2 linked regions of the Homo sapiens genome follow. The gene in region 2 interacts genetically with the main gene of each other region. Each region holds a gene or a part of one and is shown on either strand. Other genes may lie near its edges.

Region 1 (3,823 bases), on a different chromosome or scaffold from region 2:
AAAGCTTCAAATATTTGCTGTCTAACCCTTTGCAGGGAAAAAATTGCTGACCTCTGACTTAAACCATCTGCGTAACAAATTATTGGGTGCTTGCTCTATGTTAGGTACAGTACAGAGGAATATCACTGACGATCTTACTGAATTCTCACAATCACTCTTTGAAGTAGGTCCTGTCCTTGTCCACATTTTCCAGATGAGGAAACTGAAGCACCATAAATAACATGGCCAAAGCTGTGCAGCTGAGAAATGAAGGAGCCAGGAAAGGAAGTAGGACCTAAGGGTGGAATAGAATCTGGGGTGGGACACACGGTTGCTGATTATATTCATATGCCAGACATTTTAATTGTGTCTGAGACAGTTCAGGATACTAGAAGGAACATGGGACATGAAATCCTGTAGTCTTGATTTATTTGTTCAGCAAATATTTATCAGCACCTCCTGTGTGCCAGACTCTGTTTTAGATACTAGACATACAGTAGGGAACAAAACAGCAAAGCTGCCCTTGTGGGGTTTACATTCTGGTTTGGGAGACAGATAGTAGATCTGTAGTGGGATGTCAGTGGCAGTAATTGCTAAGAAGAAAAATTGCTGGACGTGGTGGCTCAAGCCTAATTGTAACACTTTGGTTTTATTTTATTTTATTTTTTTTGAGACAGAGTCTCACTCTGTCGTCCAGGCCGTCTCTGCTCATTGCAACCTCCGCCTCCCGGGTTCAAGTGATTCTCCTGCCTCAGCCTCCTGAGTGGCTAGGATTAGAGGCGCCCACCACCACATCCAGCTAATTTTTGTATTTTTAGTAGAGAGTGGGTTTCACCATGTTGGCCAGGCTGGTCTCAAACTCCCTGCCCGCCTCTGCCTCCCAAAGTGCTGGGATTACAGGCATGAGCCACCACCCCTGGCCAATTCTAGCACTTTGGAAGGCCAAGGTGAAAGGATCGCTTGAGCCCAGGAGTTTAAGACCAGCCTGGGCAACAAAGTGAGACCCTGTCTCTACCAAAAAAAAAAAAAAAATTAGCTGGTGTGATGACACAGGCCTTGGTCCCAGCTGCTCAGGAGACTGAGGTCGGAGGATTGCTTGAACCAGGGAGATCGAGGCTGCGGTGAGAGCCTGGGCGACAGCAAGACCCTGTCTCCAAAAAAAAAAAAAAAAAAAAAAAAGAACAAAATAAGACAGGTACAGGGAATAGAGCAAGCACCTGGGGCTGCTTTGTTAGATAGGGAGGTTAGAGAAAGCTGCTCTGAGGAAGTGATGTTGAACAAGGATTTGAATGAAATGAACAGGTCGTGGAAGAGCAGTCTGGGCAGAGGGAATAGTTGGTACAAAGGCCAGGAGTGGGAGGATGCTTGATGCGTTCAAAGCACAGCAAAAAGGCCAGTGTGACTGAGGCAGAGAGAATGGCAAAGTGGTGGGAGGTGAGGACTAGACCAGGACTAGATCAAGTGAGGCCTGTGGGCCAAGGTGAAGGCCTTGAAGATGGGAGGGAGGAGGAGGAATTGCAAGGCTTTCAGTAGTAATTATGGGTTCTGGTATAATTTTAAAGGATCCTTCCTCTGGCTGTCATAGGGGTTGGGCCCTGTTGAGGTGCCATTACAAAGCACCCAGGACCAGTGTTAGCATGCAGGGGGGAAGTATGGTTACAGTCAGGACATGTTGAGGGGGGCTGATGGGATTTGCTGGTGGGTAATGTAGAGGGAAGAGTTGAGGGTGACTGAAGTTTGAACCCCCGCTCTGCCAGTTGTGCTCTCTGTGTGCCCCTGGAGCAGTACTTTCCCCTCTTTGGACCCAGATTCCTCATCTGCAAAATGGGGATAATGATGAAGAATCAGCGTGTGCCTGGTTGTGAAGATGCAGTGAAATTGGCTTGCTCATTGTTCTGCGGTAGTCATATGGTGGGGATTGAGCAGACCTGAGGAAATGGGGCATCTGGGGAACCGTGTGGGACCAAGTCAGCAAGTGCTAAAGCCTGGGTTGGGAATACACTGGGCTGTTTGTTTTTTTGGTTACTATCAAGGAAGCAGTTGTGACAAGCCAGGCCCAGTGAGAATGGATCAGTAGACTAGGGTCAGATTGTGTTGGGCCTTGTAGGCCAGAGTAAGGCCTTAGCTTTTATTCTGAATGTGCAGGGAAAACATACTACATGTGGGATTATACCATATACATTCATATTATGGAAGGCTCCATGGGTTGAATGCAGGGTGGATCTTCAAAAGTGGGTCCCCTTTCCACAGGTGCATATAGTGGGAAGGCGGATTTTATTTATTAACTCACCACAGAGCAGGCTCTGTGCCGAGGCCTGCTGGGACACAGAGAGTCCCAGTCTAGGGTGGTAAGTGCTGTCATGGAACCATATGGGTGGACTCTTTGGAAAATCCCAATTCCTATTCTCTCACTTAACACAACAATCAACAACACAGAAGAAGACTTCCGTGACTAAATGTGTGTTGGGGTGGGGAGGGATTCTTCACCACCACTAAGCAAGCATTCAGTTCTGCAGCACACGCCAACTGGATGTCCTCCAATTCAGTTCAGACACGACCTGGAGACAGTGTTGGATCCAACAGGTTGAGGGCTCAGGCCTCAAAACTGCCCCTTGGCCCTCGCCTTCAGTTGCCATTCTGGGTCGTCAGAACTTCTGATCTACCTGCTTCAAGTTGGAGTTCCCATGACCACCCTGCCTTTGGGTTTGATTAATATGCTAGAGCAGCTCTCAGAACTCAGGGAAACATGTAAGTTTATCAGTTCATTATAAAGGATAGTATAAAGAATACAGATGAAGAGAGGCATAGGGTGAGCTATGGGGGAAGGGGTGTGGAGCTTCCATGCCCTTCTTGGGTGCACCACCCTCCAGGAACCTCTGTGTGTTCGGCTATGTTGAAGTTCCCAGGCCCTGTCCTTTTGGGTTTTTATAAAGGCATTGTTAGGTAGGCAGGATTGATTAAACCTGGTGATCACCTTGACCTTCAGCCCCTCTCCGATCCCTGGAGGTTGTGGGGTGGGACTGAAAATCCCAACCCTCTAATCATGCCTCTCTGTTTTCCATGACTATCTTTCCAGTGACCATGGACCCCATCCTGAAGGTATCAGTCAACATTAGCATACAAAAAGCGCCTTGGAGATTCCAAAGATTTGAGGAGTTGTATGCAAGGAAATGGGGATGAAGCCCAAATCTGTATCTCACAGTATCACAACTGTAGCAGGTGCTTGGTGGGGACACACTTGGGAGATAGTCAGTGCACAGGGAATTCTCAGGATATGACATGATCAATGGCCAGTCAAGGTTTCTGAAATGATATTAATAGATTTTCTATCAGGAATGTGACGGAGACCCCAACCTAGAGTTGTTTAAACAAGTAAGAGTTCTCTTTATTTCTCATATAGCAAGTTCAGCAGCTCAAAGCTATCACAGAATTGGGTCAGCTCAAAGATATCACAGAAATGCGGTTTTTTTGACTGGCCTGTTTTGGTTATAAGATTCCAGCAGCATCTGCTGTCCTAGTGGAACTGCACTTTTTAGTGCAGTTTAGCAGAGGCCAGCTTAGGACACAGAGGTTCTTTCCCTCCTCCCTTTTATGAAGGAGGAAAATCTCTCCTGAATCTCCTCAGCAGACTTGCTTGTATATCTCTTTGCCAAGAACTAGGTCATATGCAGAGTTAGTTGAAGTTAAGTTTGGCTGTAAGTAGTAGAAAAACTCTAAATAACAGGGGCTTAAATGAGCTTGAAGTTTCTATCTGACTGATGACCAAAATGTCTGGTGGCAATCCAGGCTGCTGTGGCACTTCATGGTGTCAGGGTCCCAGGCTCTTACCATTATGCGCTGGTTG
Region 2 (3,823 bases):
CCCAGCTAATTTTTTGTATTTTTAGTAGAGACGGGGTTTCACCGTGTTAGCCAGGATGGTCTCGATCTCCTGACCTCGTGATCTGCCCGCCTTGGCCTCCCAAAGTGCTGAGATTACAGGCGTGAGCCACCGTGCCCGGCCTCCAGGAATATCTTTTTACGAGCTCTCAATGTGATGTATATGCATGCTAATGTTGTGAAGCACCATCTGGAAAATAAACAGCTCTAAAAAGAAAGCATGGGGAGAGGTAATAAGATATGTGACCAAGATTTGATATACACAGATTCCAGTTATATTTGCTTTGATCATGTGCCTTCTTGCTTATTTCCAAAGTAATTCTAGCCATGCCTAGAAGTTCATTCTAATTCCTGTAGAACACATTATTAACATTATTCTCTGAAATACTTGAATAAATCAAGAGTAAGTGATTTGGCTAAATCCATGGCAAAGTAAAAATCAATGACAATGCCAGCATCTGAACTTATGATTCCCTATGATTGCATCATTTTTTATTACCATCTTTGAACATATTTTCAAAATCAGCCTTCAATTTTGATGTAACTTATCTAAGTGAGAGTTGATCAAAATTTTAAAAGATTTGAGAGACTTAAGACCCAGTAAAGTTTTAATATAGCCAATGGCAGCAATATCCTAGATTTCAGTAATCCTTTGTAGATTTTTCAAAGCATTTTTCATCTGTTATCTTGTGTGTTCCTCAGGACAGTCCTATCTGAGACGCAACATCCTTATTTTACCAATAAGGAAAGAAAGGCTTAGAGAGATTATGACTACCTTGGGTCTAACCATTAGTAAGGGAGCAAACTAAGTTTAGAAAGCACATTATCTCTGACCTCTGGTCTAGTGTCTTCCTTTGATGACTACTATGTGGGACATGCCCTGGGATGGAATTAGGGTTGATTGTGTCTTCTCACCTTCATTTTGGCAAACACTATTTTGGGCGATTACTCCAAATCTCTCCTAACGTACTAGACTTCTGTGTGGGTATAGTTAGCACACCACTGGCAATCTCTTCTCTGCAAAAAAAAATTAATAATGCAAGAACCCATTTTAGGGACTTGAATCAGATCTCTCACATAGATTAGTAGGTTTAAGGCAAGTCTTTTTTTTCCTTCAAATTTTTGTATCGTTTATTTGCTTAGGGTGTTGGACCTCAGGAATATACTTTACTCAAATTGAAGGTGCTTGAGCCATACCCATCTAAATTAAGGTAGGTTTGCCAGAGTAATTGCTTTATCATTTCTGAACCATCAGATAGTTGTTACAGAGTTGACATGTTTTTACATCAATATTTGTTTTTTTTTCTCAGTGGCCTGAAAGGTAAAAATATTTTCTTGGTGGCTGCTACTCTCAGACCTGAGACCATGTTTGGGCAGACAAATTGTTGGGTTCGTCCTGATATGAAGTACATTGGATTTGAGACGGTGAATGGTGATATATTCATCTGTACCCAAAAAGCAGCCAGGAATATGTCATACCAGGGCTTTACCAAAGACAATGGCGTGGTGCCTGTTGTTAAGGAATTAATGGGGGAGGTAAGTTGGATAGCAGATTTTTTATTTTAATGCGTAAATTTCAAGGAAAATTTCAACAATGAATATTGAGAAAAGAGCATTACAACCTTAAAAAATGAGGTGTACATGCAGTAAACTGTGTAAGTCTTGTGTGTTTTGGTGCATTTTCATATGTATATACACTTACGTAAACACCACCTAAATCAAGATATAGAACAGTTTTAGCACTCCAGAAGGCTCTCTCATGTCCATATCATTAGTACTCACCTCTCTCCTCCAAAGGTAACCACTGCTCTGACTTCACCAAAGATTAGTTGTTGTTCTTGAACTTTACATAATGGAATTGTGTAGTCTGACTGTTTTGTGTCTAGCTTCTTTTGCTTAACATTATGTTTGTGAGATTCATACATGTTGTAGGAATAGTTCTTTTTTTATTGTTGTGTAATATTCATTGTATGACTGTATCATTAAGATAGCATATTTTATTTTTAGGTTTCAACTCGGTAAATATCTGGTTGAAAAATATAGGCAGTCCTCCCCAAGAGATTTAATAGCTGCATTAGTCATTATATTATTTTAAAAATACTATTACCTGAATTCCTGGTAATACTAAATTTGGAATTGTAGCTGCCTTTTTTTTTTTTCATGTGAAGAAAGTCTTGGTTGATATTAATTAAATATGGATGGTTACACAGCTCATCTACTTTATTTTATTTTTATTTTTTTTTTTGTAGACAGTTTTGCCCTTGTTGCCCAGGCTGGTGTTCAGTGGCGCGATCTCAGCTCACTGCACCTCTGCCTCCTGAGTTCAAACGATTCTCCTGCCTCAGCCTCCTGAGTAGCTGGGATTACAGGTGCGGGCCACCACGCCCAGCTAATTTTTTGTATTTTTAGTAGAGACAGGGTTTCATCATGTTGGCCAGGCTGGTCTTGAACTCCTGACCTCGGGTGATCCACCCACCTCGGCCTCCCAAAGTGCAGGGATTACAGGCGTAAGCCACTGTACCCAGCCTTATCTACTGTATTATCAATATTTCTGAGTGTGTTTAATTCCATTTAGTGAATGCTGATCTTTGGTATCTTAAATAATTTTTTAAAAAGAAAAATATGAGTAGAGTACCATCTCAATTCTTTTAAATTGAACTATTTTATTCCTTATTTAATACTTTGATTGCAGTATATTTACAAGTCCCAAAATTCAAAAAACGCAAAAAGATACAAAAGTTCCCCATTCTAGAGGTAGTTAGTAATATCTGTGTCTTGTGTATCCTGGTAATATTTCATGTATACACAAGCGAATACACACATACTCTTTGTCCCTCTGTTTTTACACAAATGGCAATATACTTTATATGCATTGTACCACATCTTGCTTTTTAATTTGTATCTTGGCAATCATTTTGTCAGTACATAAACAGCTTCTTTATTCTTATTTTTTATAGCTACATAGTATTTCATTGTTTGGTTGTACCACAATTTACTTAACCATTCTCTATTAATGGATATTTGAATTGTTTCCTGCCTTTTTCTTTTAAAAGCAGCACTGCCACATCTCTTTAGTTCCTAATGTTGGAATTTTGTCTGAGAAGTTCTTGGGAACAGTATTAGGGACATACATGTTTTCCTATTCTTAATGCAACTTTTCTCCCTGTTAATTTGAGCAAATTCTGGCGTGAGGGACATGGATGTTATAAATTGCAAAATAGTTTCAACATTTAAAATGGTTATAATATTTAGCTGTCATCCATATGACTGCAAATTCTATAAAGGCAGGTTATAAGTACATATATGAATAAAGAGGGGTGGGTGGGAATTATGTGGAAAGGAAAAGTGTGTTCCTTAGCTAGAGCAAGAAGCTGCAAATTCTTTGTTGCCATCTGAGAATTTGGGTCTAAAATTGCTTAATCTTTTGGATTTTTTCAAGTGAAATTAGAACTATCCTTTTACTTTGTCTTCATAACTACTATTTTAAATAGATGTATAGTACCCATTCTTGTTCTTGTAACATATTTTGTTAAATCATTTTTTCTATCATTGAAAGCTTTAGTTGTTTCCAGGCTTTCCTAGTATAATTAACTCAGCATTGGGTAGACTTGTTTAAGAAAAAATAATTAGTTGTTGTTGAGTCTGAGTTACATGAACATTTTGTGGCTTTTGCTGTGGATTCCTATATTTTCTTCAAGGAGTACAATGTCACAAACAATGTATTAGTGTACTCATGTCATAATATTGACAGATTTAGTTATTATAATTATTAAAAATTATTTTTCCGGGACGGGCACGGTGGCTCA

The links.
Region 1: changes in LARS1 (region 2) and PPP2R1A together harm fitness more than expected from each alone (negative genetic interaction), as found in Homo sapiens cells (one large-scale study listed by BioGRID).

Annotation. Positions count from the first base shown.
Region 1 is NC_000019.10:52,192,955-52,196,777, forward strand, and holds part of PPP2R1A (serine/threonine-protein phosphatase 2A 65 kDa regulatory subunit A alpha isoform), read left to right. Parts: intron 1-3,823. UniProt on the Homo sapiens protein: The PR65 subunit of protein phosphatase 2A serves as a scaffolding molecule to coordinate the assembly of the catalytic subunit and a variable regulatory B subunit.
Region 2 is NC_000005.10:146,155,133-146,158,955, reverse strand, and holds part of LARS1 (leucine--tRNA ligase, cytoplasmic), read left to right. Parts: intron 1-1,160; coding exon 1,161-1,228; intron 1,229-1,327; coding exon 1,328-1,553; intron 1,554-3,823. UniProt on the Homo sapiens protein: Aminoacyl-tRNA synthetase that catalyzes the specific attachment of leucine to its cognate tRNA (tRNA(Leu)).